2 separate regions of the Homo sapiens genome follow, and region 1 is linked to region 2. The links come from fine-mapping of genetic effects on gene expression. A gene starts in region 2. The other region holds a variant in brackets. All regions are shown on one strand. Distances are from middle to middle.

Region 1 (5,386 bases), 120 kb after region 2:
TACCAAAATTATTCCCTCAAAGGGAAAGTGTGCTGATACTTGCAATCTAAAGTACACTGATATAGTTTAGATATTTGTCCCCTCCAAATCTCATGGTGAAATGTGACCTCTAATGTTGGAGGTGGGCCTAGTGGGAGGTGTTTGGGTCATGGAGATAGATCCCTTGTGAATGGCTTGGTGCCCTTCTCACAGTAATGAATGAGTTCTTACTCTTGAGTTCACATGAGAGCTGGCTGTTTAAAGAGCCTGGCATCTCTCCTTGCTCCCTCACTCACCATGTGACACACCGGCTCCCACTTTGCCTTCTGCCATGATTCTAAGTTTCCTGAGGCTTCACAAGAAGCAGATGCTGGTACCATGCTTTCTGTACAGCATGCAGAACCATGAGGCAAAATAAACCTCTTTTCTTTTTTTGAGACAGGGTCTCACTCTGTCACCCAGGGTGGAGTGTAGGGCACTATCTCAGCTCACAGCAACCTCCACCTCCCAGGCTCAAGCGATCCCCCCACTTCAGCCTGCCAAGTAGCTGGGACTATAGGCGCATACCACCACACACGGCTAATATTTGTACTTTTTGTAGAGACGGGGTTTCGCCACATTGCCCAGGCTGGTCTCAAACTCCTGAGTTCAAGTGATCCGCCTGCCTTGGACTCTCAAAGTGCTGGGATTACTGGTGTGAGCCACTGTGTCCGGCATAACCTCTTTTCTTTACAGATTACCCAGTCTCACATATTCCTTTATAGCAATGCAGACGGACTAACACAGACATAAAACATATAAGGATTGACAGATGAACAGATGGCATGGAGAGATATGTAGTAAAGCAAGTATCCTAAAATAATAATGGTATAAAGTAGTGAATTTACTGATGTACAATGAAAAATTGTTTCAATTTTTCTGTATGCTTAAACGTTTTCATAATAAAATGTTGGGGGAAAAAATTATACCTAAAACAGTTAAAGAACAAGTTAAGAGAACAGGGAATAATAACAACCTTAGAGGGCTGATAATTTTTCTTTATTATATTGAAGACTACAATAAAAGAAACTGAATTTCACCTATAAAGAAGTTCTACCTTATATAGTGGGAAGAATGCAATAACCACTTAAATTTTGAGAACCTGTGACACATACTTAACATAGATTACAGAATATCATCTCCATTAAATAGGCAGACTTTGTTCTGAGCTAGACTGACTATACTACAGTTAAAGGCAGAGAAATGGGTTAGATGATTTCTGGCTGACCTTATTTCTAAAAATTATTTCACATTACTTATGATGTACAAAATTATTATTATAAAAGACATTTTGCATACCACATTGGCAGGAGCACTAGCAGCTGTCTTTTCTTCAGTTTTACTATCTGTTTTGGCAACTCGAAGAGAACTTGCAGGATCAGAAGCTTTTTCAGCCTAAAAATGAATATGTTTATCACTATTAATTCTACATAACATGTAATTATGCATAAATATAGAATATGTACCAAATCAGAATAAAATGTTAAATATTCTGACAAGAAAACTGAGATGATGATAAGAAACTTGAAGGAACTTTATTAAATGAGCCTTCTCTGCTACTGAAAGGCAGATGGGAGAGCAGGTAATAGATGTGTGAGGGAGAGGAGGACAGGGCAAGGATGCAGCTATGTAACAGATGTGTGAGGGAGAGGAGGACAGAGCGAGGATGCAGGTAACAGATGTGTGAGGGAGAGGAGGATGGGGCGAGGATGCAGGTAATAGATGTGTGAGGGAGAGGAGGACGGGGCAAGGATGCAGGTAGTAGATGTGTGAGGGAGAGGAGGATGGGGTGAGGATGCAGGTAGTAGATGTGTGAGGGAGAGGAGGAGGGGACGAGGATGCAGCTATGTAATAGATGTGTGAGGGAGAGGAGGACAGGCGAGGATGCAGGTCATAAATGTGTGAGGGAGAGGAGGACGGGGTGAGGATGCAGCCACTGCACCGAACCTCTAAGTGGTTAGTCTGGGAAGTCTTCGTGGTTGGGAGAAGGGAGGCATCCACCCAGGGGAGTGAGTACGGTACCCTGTGCACACCTCTACATGCCCACTCTGACCCTCCTAGATGCAGCCCAGTCCCCTAATGGGCACGGCAGAAAGTTGTAGGTTTTAAAAGGGAGCTAGTAGGAAATTTTCCATGGCTATGACCTATAAGAAAGAGATTGCAGAATTCCTCTGGTCTCTCCAACTCCACATTTATGCTCAGCAATTTAGGTCAGAGATTCCTAGAGAGGTTCTTGCCATTGGAACTACAATAGAATATCCTAGAACACTGTGAATATTAAATTTTGGTATCCTATAGTCTTTGCTTAACTAAGGCAACTTACTCTCATACAAATTTTAAATGCTTTAATTAGAAGTTTGGCTGAAATTTGTTTTTAGTTAAAGTTGTAATTAGATCTAAAAGTTACATATAGTGAAATTCCCCTTGGGGAAAAGTTGCAATGAGTGGAGCTATGGTAACCATGGCCTCTTATGACAGGGAAATCTTCACCAAATCACACAGACAGATGCTTAGCATTAAGATGGAAACCCCCAAAGCAGCGTTTTAGCCACGGCCAGGCGGTGGTGTCTTTGCATGTGATATCAATCCCCCACCCCCACCAGACTCTGATACTTAGTAAGCATTACACTGCAACCAGCAGATATTGGAGGCCAATAAAAAAGATGAGAAGCACTGACCCAGGGAATATTTTACTCACTGATGTCCCCTCTAATATCTGCTCTGTTGACACAACATGGTATGGGAAGTGACTGCCTGCAGAAAATTAGCCAAGCCCTCGAAAACTGACCGGCAGGACTTCTGGATGTTTCTCGGCTTCATCATCTTGTTCGTCGTTTACATTTGATGCAGCAAATACTTCAAACTGACTGAAATCTGCAAAATTTGGTTGCTCTGGTATCTGCTGAGGTGAGGTACTAGTGTGAGTTATGAGGCCATCGGCATCCACTGGGCGATGCACAGCAGGACCAGGAGCCTGTGCAATGGTTCAGAACAGAGGAACACACATTCTATCAGCCTATCAGTGTCACAGAGTCATCTTCTTCTTCTT[C/T]GAAAACTTAGTATATAAAGATGACCTGTTTTATTATCTGTAAGTTCAGAGAGGTGTATTATAGTAACATTTAGCTCTAAAGAAATGATTAAACCATAAGTGAAAAGCTAAGACACTAAAAAAAAAATTAAGATGATAAACCTCCAATAAAAAGATATTTTTTTTCAAAAACTGTATTGCAAAGAAAGTACAATGAAGGAGAGGGTAGGTCTGGCCCTACCCCCATTCTCCACTTGCATGTGTTTTTTTCTTAATTGGACTAATGCACAATAGTTTCTTCCTTAAATAAGTTATTTTTTTTTAATGTTTCACTGTTTCTTAAAAAGCTTGCTCTAAAAAGTGTGAAAACCACTGCTCTATCCTCCCAACATGTCAGGAACACTTCCCTTCAATTCATCTTCCACTCCTTTGCCAGCCAGACCAATGCTGCTCCATCTTCAGTCTAAAAATATGTTTACTGAATATGTACTTGTGAACAAAACAAATGAGGCCCACTTATACTCTAATAAAGCTGACAGTCCGGAGCAGGAGAAGAGAATAAGTAAATAAGAAATTAAAATAGAGTGTGAGATGTTTTATGACAAAGGAAGTAAAGGATACTAAAGAAAGAAATCTGAAGTCTCTTCCCTTTAAAAATTCTTCATCTCCTCTAAGAAAAAGTCTATCCTTCTTACTACGATATGGACAGCTTCATTTCTCATCACTCCACACATCTACTCCTGTTGTGCTGAACTAACTTGTTTTCCCCTGAGGAATGTGCCAGGCTTAACACAAACCTCCATCGCTTTGTGGATGTCATACCTTCGGTTTGGAATACCTTTTCCCCAATAAATTCCACTTTATCTTTCAAGTCCCTGCTAAGTCTCATTCCTTCATTTCATGTATAATGTGATCCTTAACTTTAGCCACTAAGGCTGTCCCAAAGCATTTTATAAATGTCTACTACAGCACTCTAATTTTGATGTGGAAGGGATGCAGAGGTCATTATACTTCCTTAACTCATGTGGTAAACACATCCAGAGAGATGCAGTGAGGTTATTTAGGGGTATTTTGTTTTGTTTTGAGACAGGGTCTCACTCTGTCATCCAGGCTGGAGTGCAGTGGTGCAATTACAGCTCACTGCAGCCTTGATCTCCCAGGCTCAAGAGATCCTCCCACCTCAGCCTCCCAAGTAGCTGGGACTACAGGTGCACACCACCACACCCAGCTAATTTTTTTGTTTTGTTTTTAGAGATGGGGGTCTCACTATGTTGTCCAGGCTGGTCTGGAACTCCTGGGCTTGAGAAATCCTACTGCCTTAGCCTCCCAAAGTGCTGCAATTACAGGTGTGAACCACTGCACCCAGCCTGGTGAAGTGATTTTGTGAGTCACTGCTAGACCCAGGACATTAATGGATATTTCCTATCTCCCAATCCATTGTTGTTTCCACTAAACTCTTCTCTGTCAAGACATTATCATTTGTTTCACTTTTAAGGCTCTTTCAAAAAATAACTCAGATCATTCTTGAAATGTGCATCTTTCAAAATGAGATTCAGCCTCACTGAATTAAATGCTCATTAAAGATTACCAACAGATCATTCCTGACCTTCCAAATAATTTGAGAATAGAATTAAATACCTAGCAGGCAAAGTGATCATGGGACATTTAGTAATAAATACCTTGGAGAATTACCTGTGAGGGCTGTGGTCTTGGAGGCACTGCAGGAGGATGGGCAACAACTCCAGCCTGTTGTTGTCCTGCATGAATACAAAAGTTCTTCTTTTTAGTAACTGTATAATCACTTTGTTAATAGAAGAAATAGGCTGAATGAATGTGACTACATGATAAAGATTTCTAAGAATGTTTGTTAAGTATTAGAAGGCAAGTACTAACTTGTTACATGGTCTGTATGTAACCTAAAGACCAAATCTCACAGCCTTTCATCAGATCTCACTTTGCTTCTTACCTCTATTACATGAAGCCCTCCTGGCATACTCCTGCCTATTCCCATAATAGCAAACAATCTTGATTTTCTTCGTGTATCTCTGACTGCTGTTTAGGTATCAAATGAAAACTTCCAAATTTTCCCTTTCACTTAACACTTCACTTTTCCTCACCATTCTAAACTCACAGTGACTAAAACATAACTTCATCATCCTCTGCCCTAACTTTTCTATTTTAACCAAGGTAACAACAATACTGCCAGTTCTTCAAAAATTAAAAACCTGGGTAAGTTATGACTCTTCTTCTTCATCAGCCAAATTGAGACCTATCAGTTCCCACCCCCCCAACCCCTTAATATCACAACACCGTTCTTTTAAAATTTCCTGTGACATCTCT
Region 2 (5,386 bases):
GATCGCAAGCTGTTGATGCACAGGCGTCTTGTGGCAAGCCCAGCTTCAGTTTATGTTAGACAATCAGTACACATGCTGGTGTGTTTTCCAATGGCCAGTGATAAGAAATTAAATAAGTATTTGTGAGATTTGCTATTTTTTAATAAAGTAATTGTTTTAAATTAATCTCTGTTGTCTGTTTTGAAGAAACCCATATAGTCTTCAATCTGGGAAATACAAGGGTTCAATCCTTAAAAGTAAACTGTGTTTATAAAATTTGAGGTTCTTGAACTCCTTGCAAATTCTGTACCTTGTGTACATTTAAATACTGGTGTGATGAAAGAATGTGAGCTTTAAAGTTACTTACACCTTAATTTGAATCGCCGTTCTGCCCCCTTAACTTTGTGTTCATGCACGTTTACTCAGGTTGGATTTTTTTCTTTTTTCTTTTTTTTTTTTTTAAATCTAGAAAATGAGGTCAGTAACCAAGTTGGTAGTTGTTGTATGGGGAGTAAGTGAAAAAGCGCGTATAGGATGCTTAGCACAAGCCGGGCACGGTAGCTCACGCCTATAATCCCAGCACTTTGGGAGGCTGAGGCAGGTGGATCACTTGAGGTCAGGGGTTCAATACCCAGACCGGCCAACATGGTGAAACCCCATCTCCACTAAAAACACATACACACAAATTAGCCGGACGTGGTGGCGGGCTCCTGTAATCCCAACTATCAGGGAGGCTGAGACACAGGAATTGCTTGAACTCAGGAGGCAGAGAGGTTGCAGTGAGCCGAAATTGTGCCACTGCACTCTAGCCTAGGCGACAGAGCAAGACTCTGTCTCAAAAAAAAAAAAAAAAAGAGAGATGCCTAGCACAATAGCTGATACCAGTAATGCTCAGTAAACATTAATTTCATCACCCTTTAAAAACAGCTTTATTGAAACAATAATTTATGTCATAAAATGTACCCCTTTAAAGTGTACAATTCAGTGATTGTTAGTAGATTCATAGAGTTATATACCCATCACCGTGATCTAATTCTAGAACATTTTCATCACACTAAAAAGAATCCCATTAACAGTCACTCCTTGTCCCCTAATCCCCTCAGCCTTTGGCAGCCACTAACCTCCTTTCCAGCTCTCTGGATTTTCTATTCTAGACATTTTATATAAATGGAATCATACAATACGTGGCCTTTTGTGACTGGTTTCGTTTACTTAGCATGATGTTTTCAAGGATTGAAGCTTCATCCATGTTATTGCATGTACTTCATTTCTTGTTTTGGCTGATCATATGCCATGGTATGGATAGAACACATTTTGCTTATTTATAACTCAGTTACCTTTGTGTTGCAGAAGATGCTCATGCTTCTGTCTCCTTGTTTCCAGGCCACAGAAATAAGCACCTAATTGGGGGAGGGGAGGAGAGGGACTTACTGAATATTTTTCAAATCTTGATTTTAATAATTTTTGGCTTTCTGAATTCAAAGTATTTTGATCAGTAAATTGGTCTTTTTAATACCCCTTTTAAAAATTACAGCATCATGGAGGAAACTTCATTTGGGTTGTGAGAATAGGGATTTAAGGGGGAAAAAGTCGTACTCTAGGGTCTGACAGGGCGAAAGGACACTTTGTCATGTGACATGTTTTTCTTGGATTGGTCCTGAGATAGAGTAAAGCAAAAAGCTGGTTCCTGCGGGTTGTGACAGAGCAGTGGATTGACCTTGTTTATTCACTTGGTTCATTCGCCCTTTGTGTCACAGGGCCCTAAATGGGTCCCAGGTAGCGAAATATTAGCTTATCTAATTTGTATCCTTTCACACTCCTTAAACACATGTTCAAGGAAACAGGAAAAAATGCAGTGCCTGGATTAGAATAAAATTTAAGGCCTGGTTTGGTGACAGGCACCAGTACTTTTAGCTACTCTGGAGGCTGAGGCGGGAGGATTGCTTGAGCCCAGGAGTTCTAGGCTATAGTGTACAATGATGATTTTACTGGCATACAGATGAAAAAGAAAAAGATATTTGAAATAAAAATAAAAATATAGTGCACAATGACCAGGCCTGTGAATAGCCACTGCACTCCAGCCTAGGCAGCATAGCAAGATCACATTTCTCATATGAAACTTTACTAGAATGAAACTTATGGTTTATTACATAGATGTTGCTTATTCGTTGTAGGAAAAATTGAATTACAGATGATTTTTAAAACTACCAGAGCAAACCATTTAACCTATTTGTGTACATACTCCCAGATTTCTTACACACGTTGCAAAAAAAATAGATCGTACCATTCTGCTGGTTTTCTAAGCTGCTTTTTGTAAGTAATGTACTGTGAGCATCTTTTCATGGCCATAACTATTACATACAAAAGAAAAAAACAGGCTTCACAATAAATAGTTAAAAGACATTTTGACCTGAAACTAATGAAGAAGGGTTTTTTGGTTTTGTTTTTGTACCTCCTGTATAATGCTGAAATTGGTAATTCTGCAGTAAATATTAACATTTTCTGAGGATCTGCTGAAGATGAATGTGACAAAAAATAAGAAACTCCACTTTCCTCATCACACAGCCTTAATTAACATCGCTGGCTTTGTTTGAGATCAAGCAAACGTTGGCTTCAGTGTCCAAGTCTCTTCTTGGGGTCCCACGGCCTTGGGTCTGGCACCTCTGCTGGGCACCTCGCAGGGCTTCCGAGACGTGCCGCGACCCACGGGACCCCACGGAAGCTTTCTCCCACCGCAAGCTCCCTGGAGGCAGGGAAAGGAGCCGGGACCCGAGCCTAGCTGGCCTCAAGAGAAGGGCGGTGGCTCGCACGGCGCGGGCGGCTTTGCTCACTGCAGCTGGGGAGATGCAGGTTGGCCGTCCGGGCGCGGCGGCGGGAGGGGCTGCGGGCCTGTGGGGCGGGGTGGTGGCTCCGTGTTGTTGGATCCCTATGGAGATGACCCTGTCCCTGCCCCACCCCTCTCCGGAGCTGCGGCCCGAGTTGGCGCACTCGATTTTCACTGCGCGGTTCCAAGAGGAGACAGCCGCCACTGTACCGGGCCTCATAGCCACTTCCTAGAGGTAAAGCCCGTGGCTTCTGAGCCGCTAGTCTTTTTCTTGGGGCCGCCCGGGGCACATCGCCTGGGCCGGCTTAGTTTCCCAGTGCAGTCGCCCAGGAAGACCCTAAGCAGCGCTGAGGGGCGCAGGGCCCTCCCTCCGCGACCCTGGAGTCCCTTAGCAGCTCTGGAATTAACCAAGATTCTGAAGAGGCTCTGGGGAGAAACAAAATCCACGCGTAGGGTAGGGTTTGCATCGGGCCATGCCAAGTAAACTCTTACCTCCTCCAGAGAACTGATTTGGGATCGAAGTAAAGTTCTTGAACACTTTGGAAAACGCTGATTTTCATAGGTTCACACCAACTGCCTTCTTCCTTCTGACAGTTCTCTCCCTCTTTCCTCCTATGGGGTCCAAAAATGTAGGGAGTAGGGTGGGGGCTGGGTTGGGGGAATGAGGGAGGAATACAAAAAATCTACTGTGAATATAGGTCTTGGTTATAAGGATAGCTCTAAGAGTTAATATGCTAAGATTTGATGAGCAGGACAAATAAAACAGTGGTACTTTAAAATATCGATTTAAAAATACCGATGCTGTGCTTATTAATAAACTTTGCATATGTATCAGAACACAATATCCTGACATCATTGGTGTTAAAGTTCACTGCAACCCATGCAATTGTATCCAAGCCTGTTAAAGTCTGTTCTGCAGGAACTGACATTTGTGCTCCACAGAAACCTCAAAAATCATGCTCTACAAACACTTATTTCAGTGGGAGGAAGAAGGGTTAAGGACTTGGAAGTTTTATAGCAACAGTTGCATCTTGTTTGTTACAGCTTTAGTTTTATAGCTTTAAACTTATAAATCAGTGAGCACATCCACCATTTGAAAATACCAGCACAAGTATGGTATTTTCTATCACCGCCTGTAAGATCAATAGCCCAGGTTTCCTCAAAACACGCCATTATTTTCATTATCCATTGCTTAGTGTGTACTTAATAAAAATTATATACTGGCATGTAGTTTTACATGCCCTAAATGTGGGACATTTAACTCAACTGGAATTGTCTTTCATTTCTGTTTTTTCACCAATCACACTTACTTTTCTTCTACTCCCGTTCTTTTGTGCGATCTTTAGAACCAGATACCTTTTTGGAGGCATATTTAAGGAAGTAAATTTTTGATAAATAAAGGAATCATTGCACAATTTGCATGTGTGAATTGCAGAAGTACGCGCATGTAGGTACATACCTCTGCCGAGGAGCAGTGTTTTAATTTCTAAGCCACTCTGTCTACTGTAGTGGAGAAGGACCAGACTAACTTGCATTTCTCCAGCTGTATAACAGATAACCTGTGGAAACACAGTTAATTGACATCATTGCTCTTCTGTGTGATCCCAGTGAGGATTTAGCTCTCTATATGGGCTGGCAATTGTTCAGCCATTTCATCTTTTAATCTGGCTTTGGTTGTTCTGAGAGGAAAAAAAAAACAAAAAACTTTTTTCTCTTTACTCTCACACACTCAGTACAGCCCTTCACCTCTTGTCACCAAAATGTATGGGAATTTCTTCCCACCGACAACCAATTCTCCAGTGGCCACCAACTCTACGTCCTATAATTTAACCCAGTTCTGACACTGTGTACCTGGAGTTAGTGTCAGATCCCATACGTTCAGGGCTCAGTCCCAAAAGACTGCCCCCCACTTCAAATGCCAATCACAAGTCCCAGGTTGTGACTATATGTTGTTTATGATTAACCAACCAGTTACAAATCTGGATTCCCACAAGCCCCTCCTCCGGTTTGATTAATTTGCTAGAGTGACTCACGGAATTCAAGGAAACACTTTACTTATGTTTGCCCATTTATTATAAAGGATATTACAAAGGACAGATGAATAGCCAGATAGAAGAGAGGCCCAGAGAAAGGTATGTGGGCAAGGGTGTGGAACTTCCATGCCTTCTCAGCCCCTCCACATGTTCAGCTATCCCAAAGATCCCTGAATCTTGTCCTTTGGGATTTTAATGGAGGATTCATTCATAGGCACAATTGATGACATCATTGGCCATTGGTGATCACTCAACTTGAGCCCTTCTCTCTTCCCCAGAGGTCAGAGGATGGAGCTGAAAGTTCCAGCTGCATAATCACATGGTTGGTTTCCCTGGTAACCAGCCCCCATCCTGAAGCTATCTAGGGGTCCACCAAGATTCACTTCATCTGAACAAAAGATGCTCCTATCACCCAGGAAATTCCAAGGGATTTCGGAGCTCTGTGTCAGGAACTGGGGTCAAAAACCAAATATTAGAACAAAAGATTCTCCTAGCATCCCTATCTACAAGAGTTTTAGGAGCTGTATGTCAGGAACCAGGGACAAAGATC

Which allele goes with the higher level. Alleles are on the strand shown, and positions count from the first base shown. SD is a standard deviation of normalised expression in the study named.
In carriers of allele C in region 1, the expression in prefrontal cortex of the gene that starts at base 2,933 in region 2 tends to be higher than with T alone (small effect, 0.31 SD a copy in BrainSeq).

Evidence for each region. PIP is the estimated chance that this variant, and not a neighbour inherited with it, causes the effect.
Region 1: its variant is the best candidate, but not a certain one, in a credible set for the expression of ECT2L in prefrontal cortex (BrainSeq, PIP 0.79).

What each region holds. Positions count from the first base shown.
Region 1 is chr6:138,909,959-138,915,344 of GRCh38, forward strand. REPS1 (RALBP1 associated Eps domain containing 1) reads right to left here. Exons shown (of 20, transcript NM_001286611.2): 15 at 4,739-4,803; 16 at 2,807-2,992; 17 at 1,318-1,413. Among named protein-coding and RNA genes, the nearest start is that of REPS1, 76 kb to the right of the region's middle. The variant C/T (reference allele first, on the strand shown) is at 3,068.
Region 2 is chr6:138,793,155-138,798,540 of GRCh38, forward strand. It overlaps ECT2L (epithelial cell transforming 2 like), which reads left to right and starts at 2,933. Exons shown (of 22, transcript NM_001077706.3): 1 at 2,933-3,038. CCDC28A (coiled-coil domain containing 28A) reads left to right here. Exons shown (of 6, transcript NM_015439.3): 6 at 1-165.